Linked DNA regions of Homo sapiens: region 1 is linked to region 2. Evidence: fine-mapped expression QTL. Tissue or cell type: whole blood. Region 2 holds a variant in brackets; the other region holds the start of a gene. All regions are shown on one strand. Distances are from middle to middle.

What was found. PIP is the estimated chance that this variant, and not a neighbour inherited with it, causes the effect.
Region 1: it holds the start of FAM76B, and the variant in region 2 is fine-mapped to the expression of FAM76B in whole blood (INTERVAL, PIP above 0.99).

The regions. Positions count from the first base shown.
Region 1 is chr11:95,785,278-95,793,464 of GRCh38, forward strand. FAM76B (family with sequence similarity 76 member B) reads right to left here and starts at 4,505. Exons shown (of 10, transcript NM_144664.5): 1 at 4,115-4,505; 2 at 3,222-3,286; 3 at 2,347-2,401; 4 at 842-997. The coding sequence starts at 4,201. It overlaps CEP57 (centrosomal protein 57), which reads left to right and starts at 5,221. Exons shown (of 11, transcript NM_014679.5): 1 at 5,221-5,466. The coding sequence starts at 5,422. RefSeq lists a silencer at 4,113-4,532 and enhancers at 5,033-5,502, 5,466-6,129.
Region 2 is chr11:95,911,385-95,919,571 of GRCh38, forward strand. All of the region lies in intron 1 of MTMR2 (myotubularin related protein 2), which reads right to left. Among named protein-coding and RNA genes, the nearest start is that of MTMR2, 8.6 kb to the right of the region's middle. The variant T/A (reference allele first, on the strand shown) is at 4,513.

The DNA of each region.
Region 1 (8,187 bases), 130 kb before region 2:
GCATCCACTGGTCTTAGAAGGTATCTCCCATGGATAAGGTGGGTACTACCGTATTCACTGTTTTGTGGGAACTTTAAAGAACTACCACAAATAATGAGAATCAATCGTACCTGTGTCAAAGAAGAGACTTTCCAGAAGTACTGACTAAACCTCTAAAAATAAAACCAAGTTTTTATCTTCTGTTTGTTCACATGTATTCCATCCATAGTATTCCATGATGTTTATGTACCAGACATGCTGGAGGGACATGTCTTATAATGGGATATGTACATTGCTGTGGGGAGACCTGAGGAAGCCCCTCAAAGAGGTAGTCATTCTCCAAATCAACTAAAATTGATAGGCAACAGGAGGCCTGTGTGAATGCTGATCGGCAAAGGAATTATCACATGAACACAAATACTTATTACATTAAGTCACTGCAGGTAGACAAAAACAAACAACAGTTTCAAATATGAGCCTTTATCAAAAGGCACAAGAGTAACTGAATTTTATGTGCCAATGTGCCATCAGGTATTTTTTTCACACCAGTGATGTCAAGTAACTAGCAAAAGGGTAAAGTAAAAGGAGATATTTAAGCAATTAGTTAAATCTCCTGAACCAAATGTGGGATAGCCAACTAGTACAGAATAGCCACCATAGAATATTTTTTAAAGTATAGTACATGAATCTATGTATCATGCAAACAAAGAGAAAACTCACTATTCCTGCACTTTCATCTAACTACTTGCTTTCATGGACCTAAAGAATAGATCCAGTCTCAGTAGTGTATTAATTATAATTTCCAACTTGTTTGGCATTTTATTTAATTTCCAGAAGATGTCATAACATAAATAAAGCATACCTTTCTTCTTCCTTCCTCCTTCCGATCAAAAGCACATTGCTGTTTGCACTGTTCACAGGTCTGAGGTGGTCCATACTTTTTTTCTGAATTTGTGCAACGCTGACACTTGGTACCAATAAATGCTGCAATTATGTTACAGTACTGACAAGGCTTGGGCTGAAAAACATACACATTTTGAGACTTTTAAAAACATTAAATATTTGCGGCATAGCATATACCCAGTGTTGTAGACATATTTCTGGAATTAAGAAAACTCAGGTAAAAAATTTGTTTTCTGTCAAGTTTGTTGCCCTGTCACATGCAATAACTTTTATACCATATTTCTATGCATTCAACTAGTATTTATTTCTAGTCATGTAACTATTACTCTAAGATCGTGAGAAATAGATTTGTGATTTGCATAGTCTGTTAGATAATACAAAAACTACACATAAAAAAGGTTTTAAAGAACGAAAATAAAGGTACATATGTAGAGAAGTCTCATGAATCAAGAATTTGAGGAAACGTCCTTCTACTAATATCCTAGTTACCTTAATGACCATATCATTTATTTAGAAAATGTTAACTTTTCATCACATATAGGTACAAATCATATAAGGAATATATACTGTGAGTTTTCAACTTTGAAAAAATGAGAACAAGCATATTCAACATAAACTATAAAAACATACCTTGATTTTCTTTGATATTCAAAAGATGATTCAGGGCAGTTTAGAGCGTTAAAGTTAGCATTTTTGACCAATAATAAATAATATTGGTATAATATACCTATAATGATTGTAGTATACATATAAGACAATTTGTACTAGGATTGGGTCATGACTTCTGTGAATAAATATCTTTAATTGCGCTGTTTTATAAAAATAGTTCTGAGGAGGCTGTTCTGAAGTGGGCTAAAGTCTGATGATGCAAACTTTATGGATAAGTTCTCCATAACCAAGAATTTGCTATATTTGAATCTCTAAAGAACAGCTTCACAAATTTCACACTGGATTCAATACATGTAAAACAGGTATATAATTTGACTGTTTTTAAATGTTATCACCTTTCCATCAAAGTATCTATAGAAAATGTCTTTCATAAAATATGGTATGTTGAAATATCTAAGAGCATAGCAGTAGTTTTTTTTTTTCGAGACGCAGTCTCGCTCTGTCCCCCAGGCTGGAGTGCAGTGGCAGGATCTCAGCTCACTGCAAACTCCGCCTCCTGAGTTCACGCCATTCTCCTGCCTCAGCCTCTGGAGTAGCTGGGACTACAGGCGCCCACCACCATACCCGGCTCATTTTTTTTTTGTTGTATTTTTAGTAGACATGGGGTTTCACCGTGTTAGCCAGGATGGTCTCCATCTCCTGACCTTGTGATCCGCCCTCCTCGGCCTCCCAAAGTGCTGGGATTACAGGCGTGAGCCACTGTGCCCAGCCAGCAGTACATATTTTTTTAAAAGGTCCAGCTTTATGAAAAATATTAACTGGTAACAATGACATGAAAACATAAGACATACTTACCGTCCCAAATTGCTTCACATTTTGAGCACACTTCTTACAAATTGTGTTAGTTTTGCTGAAAAATAAATTGTATATAGATCATGTTTATGTAGCTTTCTAAAGTAATTAGCACAATGTCAAAATAAAATGAGTCAAAGATTTGTTGTACTTAAAACTTTAATAAGGACCACGGATTTTTTTCAAATATACAAGGATATTTTCAGAGTTGTTTTACCCAAATTAACTTATGACAAATGTTTTTATACATTTTTATTGCATATTACTTTTTGTAAACAAAACATCTTAATGTTTCCTATATAGCTCCAAAATCTTCACACTTGACACTATTACTGCACAGCATTACAATACCAGTGCCTACCTAACCTTCCACTTGGCTACTGTCCAACATTATAATGCCCACACCTATTTATGAAGAAATTATTTGTTCTTTTCTGAGGCTACTTTCTGTATATACTCTCAGAGTGGAACTGTTAAAAATGTTACGTACTACTCCTCTTCTATGTAACAAATTATTAGATTTTCACCTTGGAAGGCAGTTGGTAACACTACAGACCTTTCCTCAGATCCATTAAGGCTTTACCATTTTTTTTTAGTTTAACATAACTGTTTACATTTGCATTTTCATTAGCAAGGCTGTACATTTTCCATGTAGTATTATTCCTTCTCTCATATAAAGTCTAACTGTAAATTAACCACCACTGGTTTTTTTCGCAACATTCTCTCTCCCACCATGTATAAAAGGTTTACAACTTAAAATTTCTGGGGCTAAACCATTTTTTAAAAATACTTTCATAAAAACATGGGATTACAACCCCCAAGTATTCCATAAAGACAACACTTGTCTTTAACAGTCAAAAACTATTCAGTATACAAACCTCTCTTGTTGAAATTCTGATCTGCAGTAAGTACATTTTACAATAGGATGTGCAATCCGACATTCCTGTAATAAGACAATACATTAGTCAGTATCTTTCTGAAAGTCCCAAATCTCACTTTTCTGGTAGAAAACTGTTTACCCAACCTAGTGAAAGTCTAAAACATTTATAAAACCTGGCCCCAACGTAAAGAACTGGATGCTTTATCATATAAGTGGCCAATCACAATATAATTCCTTAGGGAAGGCACAGGTGTCTTTGTCTTTAGTAGACGTGGGGGTATATTACAGACAAATTAAGAAAGCTGTCAGGGCCTATTTCAAGGATTGGTTAAATGTGAAACTACTTATTATTTTGCACCGTTGCTCACAGACAGCATCCAGGCTTTAATGGGATGGGAGGAGCTCCAAATCAGAGCATTCTGTTCCCAAACCAGTCGCTTCGCTTTCCTGGACAGGGAAGAAGGATGCCATCAGCTTTGCGGCTTCGGGTTCCTAGCAAGAAAGTGCAAAAACCGTCCCCTGCCTCCTGGTGGAAGAAGAGGACAGACCAGGCAGAAAACCGAGATGAAAACATCTCCACCCCTGGGTCTCTGCGGCATAGACAGGTGGCTGCCTCACTCAACCCCACTCCTGAGACCCCCAGACGCTGACGGGGCCCGGCACCCTCCTGGGCCGCCTGGAAAAGGGCACGATTCTGCCTCCCTTTCAGGGTCCGTTCCCAGCTAATGTTCAAGCCCCCAGAAAAAGGGGTCCCCGAGTGGGGAGGCGAGGGCTCCAGACTCCCAAACCCCTGAGGCGCCGGCGAAGAGGGGCTGCAGTGCAGCGGCTACCCGGCCCCCTCCGGCTACGGCCGAGGACACCCATCCCGCCCGCCTCCCGGAGCCCACGGACCTTGCAGAGCTGCTGGCCCTGGGAGAGCTCCTCGAAAGGATAACGCTGGGTACACTTGGTGCAGGCGTACAGGGCCGAGGCCGCCATCCTGCTCCTCAGTCTCCTCCTCCGCCGCCGCCCGCTCCGAGGCGGGGCCCTACGGAGAACCCGAGAGCCGCCGCCGCCCGGGCCGCGGGCTCCTCCTCCTCCCCCTCCCCCTGCCTCGCGCCCACCAGGGCCTCGCCGCGAGAGCCCAGGGCCCCGCGGACGACGCCACCGTCTCCCTCCGCCTCCACTTCCGCCCCAGCCCACCCAGTGACGCCGTGCCAGCCGCTCCCGCTTAGGCCCCGATAGCGGCGGAGGGAGACGAAGCGGGTAGGGGGTTGCTGTTTAGCTGTGCGGCCGTGGATCCGCTTCCTTCTCGGCCTCCCTTTCCCATCCCTGATTGGCTGCGAAGGCTATCGCGTCATTCGATGGCTCCTCCCAACTCCCAACTTCCGCGACGCAGGAAGCGCCCACAAAGGGAGGATGTCGCCGGCCAATGACATCCCGGAGCTCTCAGCGCGCGAAATCCGCTTTGAACCTGCCCCGCCCAAAGGTCTGCGGTCGCGGCTATTTCTAACAGCCAGTCCCAGGTTTGGCTGAGAGCGCCCCAATCCAATTGAGCAAATGTTCGCGAAAGGCTCGTTCTCTGCCGCAACTTTTTTTCCCTTGCTTTCTATTGGACTAAATCGTTAAGTCCCTCCTAATCCTATTTGTTATTGGCCAAAAGGTAAATACTTCACCTGGAGAGGCGTCCCCGAGGCAAATTCACGCTCTCTCCGGCGTTTAATCCGAGGGAACTCGTGGAGTGCTTTAACTTCGCCTTCGCTTTTGTTTTATCTCCATTACTCCCTTCAGTTGCCACTGGCGACACCACTACTCGCCCACGCTTCTTACTGGAGGAGGCCCGACCCTCCGTAGAATCCCCGCAGAGCCGGCCTGTAACCCCGGCGTTGTCTGCCCCAGCGGGCCCCGTTACGCGCTACCTTGTGACGTCACCAGGGAAGAGGCGGATTCTCTCCTACTACAGAAAGACGTCTGCTGTTTTGATTGGCTAGGAAAGACGTCCGTTAGGACGTGTTGCCCTTTCTGTGTAAGCTGTGAGCGTAGGCGGCCCTGAGGGGGTGTGTTGCAGGGGTTTCCAAGCCCAGCACCAGCACCCTTGCCCTTTTCCATCAGGGGTTCAGCCTAGGGTCCCCGCTGGTGGGCGGCTCCCGAGTCTTGGAGAAGAGCACGAGAACCTAGACCGCCCCCGAAGTGCGGAGACCCCCTGGGCAGGCTGAAAGATGGCGGCGGCGTCTGTCTCTGCGGCTTCTGGTTCTCACTTGTCGGTAAGAAGCAGTTGGCGCGAGTGGGCCCCACGTCGGCCCTAAGCGCCTCTTTGAGTTTCCTCACGTTTCAGGGCGCTGTCAGTCCAGCTTCTGACGCAATTCTGGAGGTCGGCGGGAATGCCTAGATTGCCCCGCGCTCCCCAAGCTTCCATTCACTGTGGCTGTGTCGAAGCTGCACCCTCTGGCTCCCAGTGAAACTGGGCTGGCCGCCCCTGTTCCCCAGCCCTTATTCACCTTTTGGCGTAGCAACCAACCCCGGTTGCCTAACATTCCCAAGGGCCGGCTGGGATAACTGCCCACTCCCTGGCCTGCAAAAATGTAGCTCTTTTGGTCACGTGGGTTCAGCGGCCCCTCTAGGAAACTCGCCAGATCAGGTGAGGCGCGCCAGTGTGTTTAAGAGACGTTGCAGAATAGTAGTCCGCCGTCTCTCGAGCGCTTACTAGTCGTTGCTTATGCTGTTTCCTATCCCTGCAGTGCCTCCCACTCCCATCCACATTAACTTCGTTGTGTGATGCTCGTAGCCAGAACGCGCGCTTCCTGTCACCTAGAATTACTGGAACTTCAATGTGGAAATGCCCTTTTGGAGAGGCGACAGGGGGAATTGATTTTAAATATTGTTTTCGCCTCATCAAATGTCACCATCCAGTTTAGTTACTGGTATTCACTGGTATTTCTCAAATTGGAGTGTCGAATGCTTAGGTTTTTGAAAACCGCGGCATTGGAAAGCTTTGATAGGAAGTAAATGTTGGAGCTCTTATTTCTCCAGTTAGCAAATGTTCGATGCCTGGTATACTGTTAGGGTCCAAATGAACAGAATAGAAACCCTGCTTTGAAGGAGAAAAACACTGAAGAGAAACTACACGTAATTAGTGATTACTGCGCAGTATAGTTTAGGAAGTGCTACCGTAGTAGAATAATCTAGAGGGGAGTGATTAACAGTGCTTGGGTAGGCTAGAGAAGGTTTCCTAGAAGGGAAGATGGAGCTAGTTGCGTGTCGAAGGAATTGTGATTGCTTGTCCCAAGAGTAGAGAAAGGAGAAAAAGGCAGTGCGGGAATTTTGGAGTATGTGCTAGAACAGTAGGTGCTTTTAGGAAACTTGAGATAGTTCGGAATGAGAAGAAGTAATACGGAGGTAGAGCTGGATGAGGTGAATTGGAAACGTAGGTAAAAACGTGAAAAAAGAAGGATGGTGAGGGAAGGAACTAGAAGAGTATCAGGGTAAAGTTATTTTCTAGGATCTAGGGGGAAAGAGTTGGAAACGCTAAGAAAGCCTGGTCACCTTGGAGAAGTCAGTTTCAGCTTTTGGAGACTTGTTAGAATTTGTAATAATGGGACTAGAAGTATTACAGTGTTTCAGCCGAATGGGAATTAGAAGTTTGCAGAGAGGTCTGGGGAAGTTAAGGAGAAGTAAGGAAAGCAGCAATTTAAGGTTATTCAGGATTAGGTCAGTAAAAGAAAAAAGTAAAAAACTATTGGAAGTGTCAGCAGATGGATGAGATTTTATAGGAGATGTGATTAAACTTGGGAGAAGAGGGCTTTTCACGGCTCTCAAAAGTTAAGCACTTGGAGACCGAACAAGGAATACTCTTACAAATGTTGAATTGAGTCTGGGTGCGTGGCTCATGCCTGTAATACCAGCTACTAGTGAGGCTGAGGCGGGAGGATCACTGAGGCTGAAGTGAGGTATGATAGTGCCACTGCTCTCCAGCCTGGGCGACAGAGCGACCCTGTCTCCATAAAATAAAATATTAAATAAACGTTTAATTGAGCTGCACTATGCCAAGGACACCTAGGTGAGCATTGGCACTGGGATATAGTCAGCTGTTAATACTTATACGGTACCCTTGACAGAAATACCAAAGACTGTTCATTAGGAAAGCATATTTTTTTTGTGCTAAGCTCAGCTTTAATAGGATTCTAAATATCAAGGGTACACTAAGAATATCTAGGAACCTCCACAAATCAAAGTATAACAACCATAACTCAATCTGCTACATCAAAATGTCTATTTTGGAAGTTACTGTTTCTCAAAACAAAAATGACTAAATTTAGTTGGTTTCTTGGTGCGTAAGAAAACGTCCTGCTTAGATGTCCCATCAGAAATAAGGCTGCCATTTCCAACAGCGTTGGAAAAGCACTTAGCTTATCAAACAGCTGATCTTAACAGTAGGCAACATTTAAAAAAAAAAAAACTTGTTAAAACTATACCATGAACTGAGAACACAACTCGTATTCAGATTTCACGGTTATGAAGATTAACAACTGTTATATTCAACTGTTTTCGACATTGATAAACTCATACGGAGCTAGTTATAAGTACATTGAGATGCTTTACAGGCAAAGATTTTTAACAAGTAGATTCATAAATAACCGTCTTTGGGAAGCAGTGACCATGTAAATCTCAAATGTGAACAGCATGGAAGTAGGGCGATAGGTTTCAGTTAGGTTCTAGGTAACGTTTATTGAGTGATTGCTCTGGAATTGATAAACTTCGACTGGTGGAAAAGGCAGGAAAGCAACTATGATTGGGCATAATGAAATTAATTCCATATGGAGGTATGGGCAGCATTGTGTTGAAATACACAAGAATGTCTTTCATGTCAGCCTTGTAATATTTTCACAATAACCTTGGTGATTAATGACCTAATCTCTTGATTTGTCCCTCTGACTTTTGGTCCTTCGACCAAGCTGCACAGTAGCTCCATATTAATTTCCCTTAAA
Region 2 (8,187 bases):
TATTGTTTCTTCAAAGAACTTATTGGGAAATTTAAATAAATAAAGAGGTGAAAGCCAAAGTATTCTGCGGAAAATGAATGTGTCCCTGGGAGACAGGGGTGAGGACTGGAGGGCAGGAAGGACCTTGAGTTCCAGCACCAATCTCACAGCCTCAGCACCCCGTTTAAGGAGCTTCTCAGAATCTCTTCAAAAACCTCCGATTCAAATTCAGATGACAGCTCAAATGAAAACACACAGATTCATAAGTAGCCAAGAGGGAAAAAGTTATTTAAATATCACTTAACTGAGAGAAGAATCAAACTAAACTGAAAACTGGTCAGATTATTAGAGCTCTGAAATTAACCCTTCCATCCCAAACTAAAGTATACAGGCAAAAACACTAAAAGAGAGAAGGTGATCTATTCCCTAAACACTTGCTCAACAAACACTTACTTGGACAAGTATAGAAAACAGGGAAATTTATGTCTTGAAAAATGATCTGTCATGTAATTTTCTCACTCCACCTTGCAAACCTGAATTCATTATTCAAATTAGAAAGTCATATATCCATTATTTTTGCTATCCAGATAGATATATTTTGTTTTTCCAAGACAAGCAAAACTGTTTATTATACAATTAATCTTTCACTACCCTTTCAATGTAATGAGATACAACTTTTCTGCACAAACTTCAAAGTCATATAAATGAAGTTAACACAGGTGGGTTTTTTTTTTTTTTTTCAGTTACTAAGTTAAAACTCTCAGTAGGAAAGGTAGAGCATTCAACATCTTTCTCTTTGTAGTCCAGAAAGGTTAAGCTAAAAATCAAAATACTGACAGTACTCAGTGATCCATGCCTGCCAAGGATATCTCTCCCTAATTTTGAATACTCTTCCCTATTTACCAGATTAGTTGTTAGAAATCATAAACTAGAAAACCACATAATAGATAAGGTTCCTTTCTAGAGCTCTTATAAGTACAATCTTGTTTCCATGGTTATGAAAAGAACAAAAAAGTTTTTAATGAAAAGAAAATTTATAATTGAAAAATATAATAATTTTTTAGAAATCAATAGGCTATTTTAAAATGACGTTTTTTAAAAATCATAGAATAAAAATGTCTTGAAATATTAAAAAAAGGCATTGCATCATTAAACTCTCTAGTAATTTGAGAATTACAGAGTATTTCCAAAATTAAGATAACGAGATTTACTCATATAAAGTTACAAATCAGTAACTATCAATATACCATACATAATACAATATAAAATATACACAATACTAAAACGAATTCAAACTCTTATAGTTCAAAAATACTTTATAAATTTCAGTCCCTCAGAGATCTTGTGAATATCAACTATAAAATATAGTATTATAAATACAATAAAATTATTTCAATTATTTAAAGTTTCTGGCTTGGTATATAAAGCATCAGATTCTGTATGAAGCAAATAAAATCACTCCTAACTAGCGTACTTCACAGAATACAAATGAAGAAAAGTTTTAACAGTAAACTGTTCATAGTATAGCTTATCAAGCACCTACTATTTGCAAAACACTATAAAATTTGTACCTACTATTTCACTCAAAAAATGAAATCAGATCCTCATTTTCGTAAGCATGAAACTTAAATCCAGGTAGAAATAATATCATGGATACAAAAAAAAGTTTTTTCTTTCCTTCACCAAGTCTATCCAATGATTTCAAAACCAGAATGAGTCACATATCTGACTAAAAATGAAGAAACAGTATGTTTTTCATTTACATAACCCATATGTCCTCTTATTTTTTTCAGGAACAGTGATGGATTGGTTATAATCTTATACATCCTATAAGCAGAGGGTTCTATAGACAGGAAATACAGTGAAGTTATATGGCCCTGCAAAAAAATCATGATGCTACATGGTAAAGTCTAGAACTGGGAATTAGGAGATCATCTCTGACACTAAATAGCTCTATGACCTCAGAGGAAAACCACAACCTTTCCTGGCCCTCTAACATTTATTGTGCTTTGGGGTAAATTATTAGAGTTCTCTAGATCTATTTCCACATCTGAAAACTTTTGGAACTAGACTAGCATCCAACAGCATTTGGATGGGTGGTTCTTCAACTGTTAAATGCCGATTCCTAACGTCACCTCAATGATTCAGAATGTCCACGCTGAAACCTAGGAAGTTAAATGTTCACCAAGTTCACAGTTGACTGAAATACATAGGTGGTCCTCAGCCACAGTTGAAAAACACTAATTGGTTGATCTCTAATCCCTCTAAGAGTGTGAAAAGATGATATAATTCATTTCAGCACCAAGCTTTTAGGAATTCAGAATCTAGCACAGTGTGTAAGGCACAGTAGATGTTAAACAATTATTTGCAGAAAGAAAGGAAGGGAAAGAGGAGGGGAAAAAAAGAAAGAATAGAGAAAGAGGGGGAAGGAAGGCGGCTAACTAACTGGTCATATTTTTGGCTAAGAAACATACAAAACAGTAGTAAAATTACACTTGAATAACATACACAACACACATCAATAGCTGGAAAGCAAAGACCTTAGTATCTATAACATTTTGCATATAACATGAATTCTTGTCATCCTCTTCTCAAGTCAAACTGCAAATTGCTAAGGAGGAAAAGGAAGAAAACAGAACATGGATGCCAAAAGAATTCTAATGGAAAATAACTGGATGACTAAAACTTAGTGACTGCTTTCCCCAAGTAGAAGAGAACACAGAATTTTAAGGACAGGGACTTGGAAATGGAACTGAAGTTTGAAACTACTTGTTACTCATAAGTGCAAATTTCATTTGGGATAATATATAATCCAGAAATACTGTTGGCAATATTAACTTTTGTCCATTTTTATATCTGCATTTTCCCATTCACTTACATTATAATTTTTGAGATGTTTTATCTTCACTTCTGATGATCTTCAAATGTCAATGGCTCTTAACACATTAACTGTAAATAAACACAAAGGAACTTAGGGGAATTCAGAAATTTAAGGAACCCTAAAATATTCTAAATCATTGTGCAAAGCCTGCAGGGCAGGGAGTGGTGGGGAGGAGGCTTTGGCAATTACTTGCTTCATACTTTACATGATCTTCAAAATGTAAAACTGTTCTTTTGAATGAAATGATACTACCGATACTACCCTCTTAATCATCAGGTAATGAATGAAATGATACTATCCTCTTAATCTCAGGCAAAGAAAAAAAAACATCCTATTTTCTGTCAGAAGGCAAACAAAATTCAAAGGTAAAATTCTCTCCAAATACAAACTCTCACTTGGTGAATGTATACTGTATCTTTATCCTTCTCCAGCAAAATAGCAGGTCAAGGAAACTCATGTCCTTATCACTACCACCCAATCAACCTGCCCTGGGACTGCCCTCTAACTACAAAGCTTTGGTCTGCACCTGGGGCACTAGATCTTCAGGCATGTGTGTTCTTTAGAGCACACAGACCCTGAAGTCAAATGGACTTGAATTCACATGTCAAGGTACCCTCTCTAATCTTCCGTTTTCTTCTCTGTAAAATGGAAACATTAACACTCTCTACTTTATACAGTTATGAGGATTATATGAGAAAATGCATAGAAGAAATGTAGCACCATGCCCAGCATAGTAAGCATGCAATAAATGTTGTGCTATTTATATTATTGTTGTGTTTAATATTAACATTATTATTACTATAACTGTCTACCACTAGGAAAGCAAGGCTTGTTTTCAGTGTTGCTATTTTGAGGCAATGCCTTTGGTTATGATAAAAGAATGTTGTTATCTAATATTGGTAACAGAGAACAGAGAACAAAATTTTATTTTTGAACTTTGCTGGGCTTCTTGGCTCGCTCAAGAATATTAAGGCTTGTAATCACCAGCCCATCATCAGCCAGTTATTTTCCCTTTTGCTAATGCATAACCTCCAGACAAGGCCTCCTCCCTACCTCAGCAACTGCTCATTTGCTGCTATCAGTAAAAGCAATTCTGCCGAGAAGAGAAATGGATATGTTTCTGACTTAATGTCTATTAAATCCTCAGAGCCTGATGAATAAATGTTTTATCAATCCAAAGGAGACTTATATACATATGCTCTTCTATTCACATCCAAATTATAAACTCCTTATGTTTGAAATTATATGCTTAAAATATTAATATTTAAGTTAGGTGACAAAAGAATATATAAGACACAGATGTCTCCGCATTTTTAATAAAATGTTTAGGTCAAAGATATAAAAACAAACTGAATATTGGCAAAAGCATTCATAAATTAAAATGGTCAGCTTTATTTATTTCCCTTATGGAAACCACATCCTTACAACTGAAATGAGAGAAAATACCTAAGTAGAACCCGATGCAACATTCTAGAAGAGGATAAAATACATGGATACATGGCTTGGAAATGGATGTCAAATTGGAAGTAAGCAGAGTAGGCCATCAACTTCATTACCACTACTACTTTACCGTGCAATTCCTTGAGCTCTTCAAGTGAAATACAATATAGCACGGCAATCCATTCTTCCTTTGATTTCTGTTTCCCCATCAC[T/A]TAATGATCTTGTCAATATTAAATGTACCACTTTCATTTTATGGTTCCAGATTAGGATTATAAAAATCTGACCCAAGACAAGACACAAAAAAATAGAAAGCTAAACTCAAGAGTTCAGAGTGCTCCAAGATACAATTCTCTTTTTTGGTCTGCAGCAATGTATTACCTCCTCTCTTTCAGTGTGTTTTCTATTTTGGTCATCGCATTTGCAGCTCTAAGGGTGTCTCTGGCATAAGTGAAATATTGCAGACTTTAGGTGGAAAATGTCTTTCTTTTAAATGATTCATCTGTACCCAAGGGGAAAAGCTGCTATGACTCCAATACCCATTCTCTCCTATTCCTCAGTGACAGAACCTCCAAATTTAGCTCAGCACAAAGGCCTCACAGATGAGACTGCCTATCCCAGCCTCTTGTTTACCTACGTATGGCCATGGGACCATCCATGTTTTAGCCAACTGGATGTAAGTTAAAAAAAATGACATGTGACTGCCAAAAAAGTATCCTTCAAAGAGAGAGAGTATGCTCCTCTTCTTCCCTTCCTCCTGAAGATATAATAGCTGGAGTTCCAACAATAATTTTGGTTCATGAGGTAACCCTGGAATGTAAGACAATCTGGGTCCTTGATACTTCAGATCCACCATATTAGATCTGTATTGACTATCTCCAGGCTTTCATGTGGAAAAAAATTTAGCATCTCCTATATTAAGCCACTGTCAGTTTGTATTTTGTTATGTGCTGCTAAACCTAAAGTAGAACTTAAAAAAAAAAAAGAATTTTCCAAATAACAGTGTTTAAATTTTTAATTAAAATATATTTTACAGGTAATTTTTAATATATTTAATACACAGCATTTGCTCTTATTTACTCTAGACTAAAAATATTTAAAGAGCCCAAGAGTTATTCACACAAAGTAAGAGTCTTTGAAAGAATAAATATTCACCAGTGATTATGGCCATAGGTCCTATGTACTTGGGGAAGGGAAGAATTATGAAGCTTGCTTATTAACAGTTTGTATTAATGACAACATTGGTACCTATATAGAAACATATTAGGAGGGACAGGCACAATTAGCTTTGCATAATAAAGCTACAGGAAAGGGAACTGAAGTTATTATTTTCAAGAAGGCATCTTCCCTAGTCCTTTTTATTTTAATAATCTAGTACCAACTTTATCTTTTTATACAGTTCCATTTTTAATTTGACTTCCTGTGGAAAGCAGGTTTTTAAAATCACTCCCTATCCTTGACTATCACCTCTAATAGTGTTTAATTATTATCTACCGATTTAACTAAATCAAACAGTAGACACAAAGATAGCAAGTACTTTACATATTCAAAACCATCTTCCTTACAAAGGAAAAATATTCCACACTAAAATCTGGAGAATTTCCATTACTCAAATCCTGAATCGCACGCAATCTTTGGCTCTGATGATTTTGAATACAATAGCATTAACTTGGCAGCTTTCCAAAATAAACTTACTGCTTTCTGGTCATCTGTATCCAGGTTATCTCCTTCCCCTGGGCATAATCCAAACTTTACAGGTTCAGGTGATGGCCTCCTGGAATTACTTGTTCATAATACAGTTGACCCTTGAACAACACAGGAGTTGGGGTGCTGACCTTCAACGCAGCTGAAAATCCGCATATAATTTTGACTCCCCAAACTACTCCCCAGACTTAACTATTAATAGACTACTGTTGACTGGAAGCTTTACGGATAACATAAACAGCCCATCAAAACATATTTCAGGCTGCACGCCAATATACTGAACTCTAACAATGAAAAAAAATGTTATTAAGACAATCACAAAGAAAAGAAAATACATTTACTACCCATTAAGTGGAAGTGGGTCATCATAAAGTTTGTTACCCTCATCATGTTGCACATGCTGAGGAGGAAAAGGAGGGGTTGGTCTTGCTGTGTCAGGGGTGGCAGAAGCAGAAGAAAATCCACATAAAAGTGGATCTGAACAGTTCACACCCATGTGGTTCGAGGGTCAACTGTACTTTTTTTAAAAATGCTTGTTTCCACTAATCTTTCTCACTAAGAATCTATTTTTAAGAAAAAGCCTAAAACGCATATTCTTGTTTTATGTTACTCAAAGAAAAATGCCTTAGGAAATTTCCTAGAAATCAAATCTAATAAATCGACAAGAGATGACTTTTACCTTTTACTACTTTAGTCAACATTTTTACAAAAATGCTCTCAAGTAATAGTTTTACAGTACTTCTAACATAGACCTTAACTTAGTTTTAACTAATGTTGATTGCATTACAAAAGGCACCAATTAGCAAAAGATCCAAGGCAGTGGTTCTCAAACTTCAGCATCCATCGGGATCACCTGGAAAGCTTGCTAAAACACCAACAGCTGGGCTCCACCCCTAAAATGTTAATTCAGTTAGGTCCAAGGTAGGGCCCAAGAATTTGCATTTTTAACAAATCCCAAAGAGATACTGATGCTACTGGCCTGGAGACCAAACTTTGAGAACTACTGGTCTACACTAATAGGAAATTATTGATAATAGCATAAAAAGGAAAAATACAGATATATACGGGACCCAGTCTCAGGTTCACTATCAACTTGCATTCTTCAAATATGTGCTTTCTGAAAAGCTACATAATTACTATGTCAGACCAATATTGTTTCTTATCTAAGAGAACTTAGATCTTTGAGGGTTTTTAAGTAATGAAATCCAAATAAGTAATTTTTAGTCTAATATGTTCAATGTTTGATACAAGGTACTACTAATAATGCCAAGGTTGTAGGTTCAATCTGGTAGCTTTACTCTGTTTTACAGCTATAATTTCTACCTCTAATCTTGCCAGCTGTCTCAGCAGACATGCCAAGAGTGACAAAGGGAATGGGTAAAAATGTGTGATTGTACACAAATCCATCACCACTACTAGAAAAACAACATAAAAGCATATTTCCTACCAACATATCACTTTTTTTTCTTGAGACGGGGTCTCACTGTCTTGCCCAGGCCAGAATACAGTGGCACTATCACAACCCACTGCAGCCTCAACGTTCCCAGGCTCAGGTGATCCTCTCACACCAGCCTCCCAAGTATCTGGGACTACAGGCATGCACTACCATGCCCAGCTAACTTTTTATTTTTTGCAGAGACAGTGTTCTGCCATGTGACCCTGGCTGGTCTGGAATTTCTGGACTCAAGCAATCCCAAACTGTTCAGCCTCCTAAACTGCTAGGATTACAGGCGTTAGCTACTGCACCTGGCCTCCAACACGTCACTCTTAAGTGACCTTGAGGCTAAAACTAAAGATGAGACCTTGCAACAAAATGTGTTTTAGAAATCTAGGAAACTCCTCTACTTCTTCAGGCTATAAGTATAATCAAAATCCATGGAAACAGAAATCTAGGAATTCCTGTTTTCAAATGATGATAATTTTAAGGCAGGCATGCAATTTATAAATGCAATTAGTTGAGAACTACTTTGAGTATGTGTACCCCCCCTTTGATTTTTTTAATGGAAGTTAAATGTAAATATAAGATGCTCATCAATGCTAATGAAATTATATACTACAAATTGATAAAACCAAATAATCTGGGATAAACAAGTATGGTACCCAGAATAACTAAAGCCTGAGGTTATATGAAGGATGACAAGAACACACATTAATTAAAACGACTAACAACACAAGTTAGAGCAAAA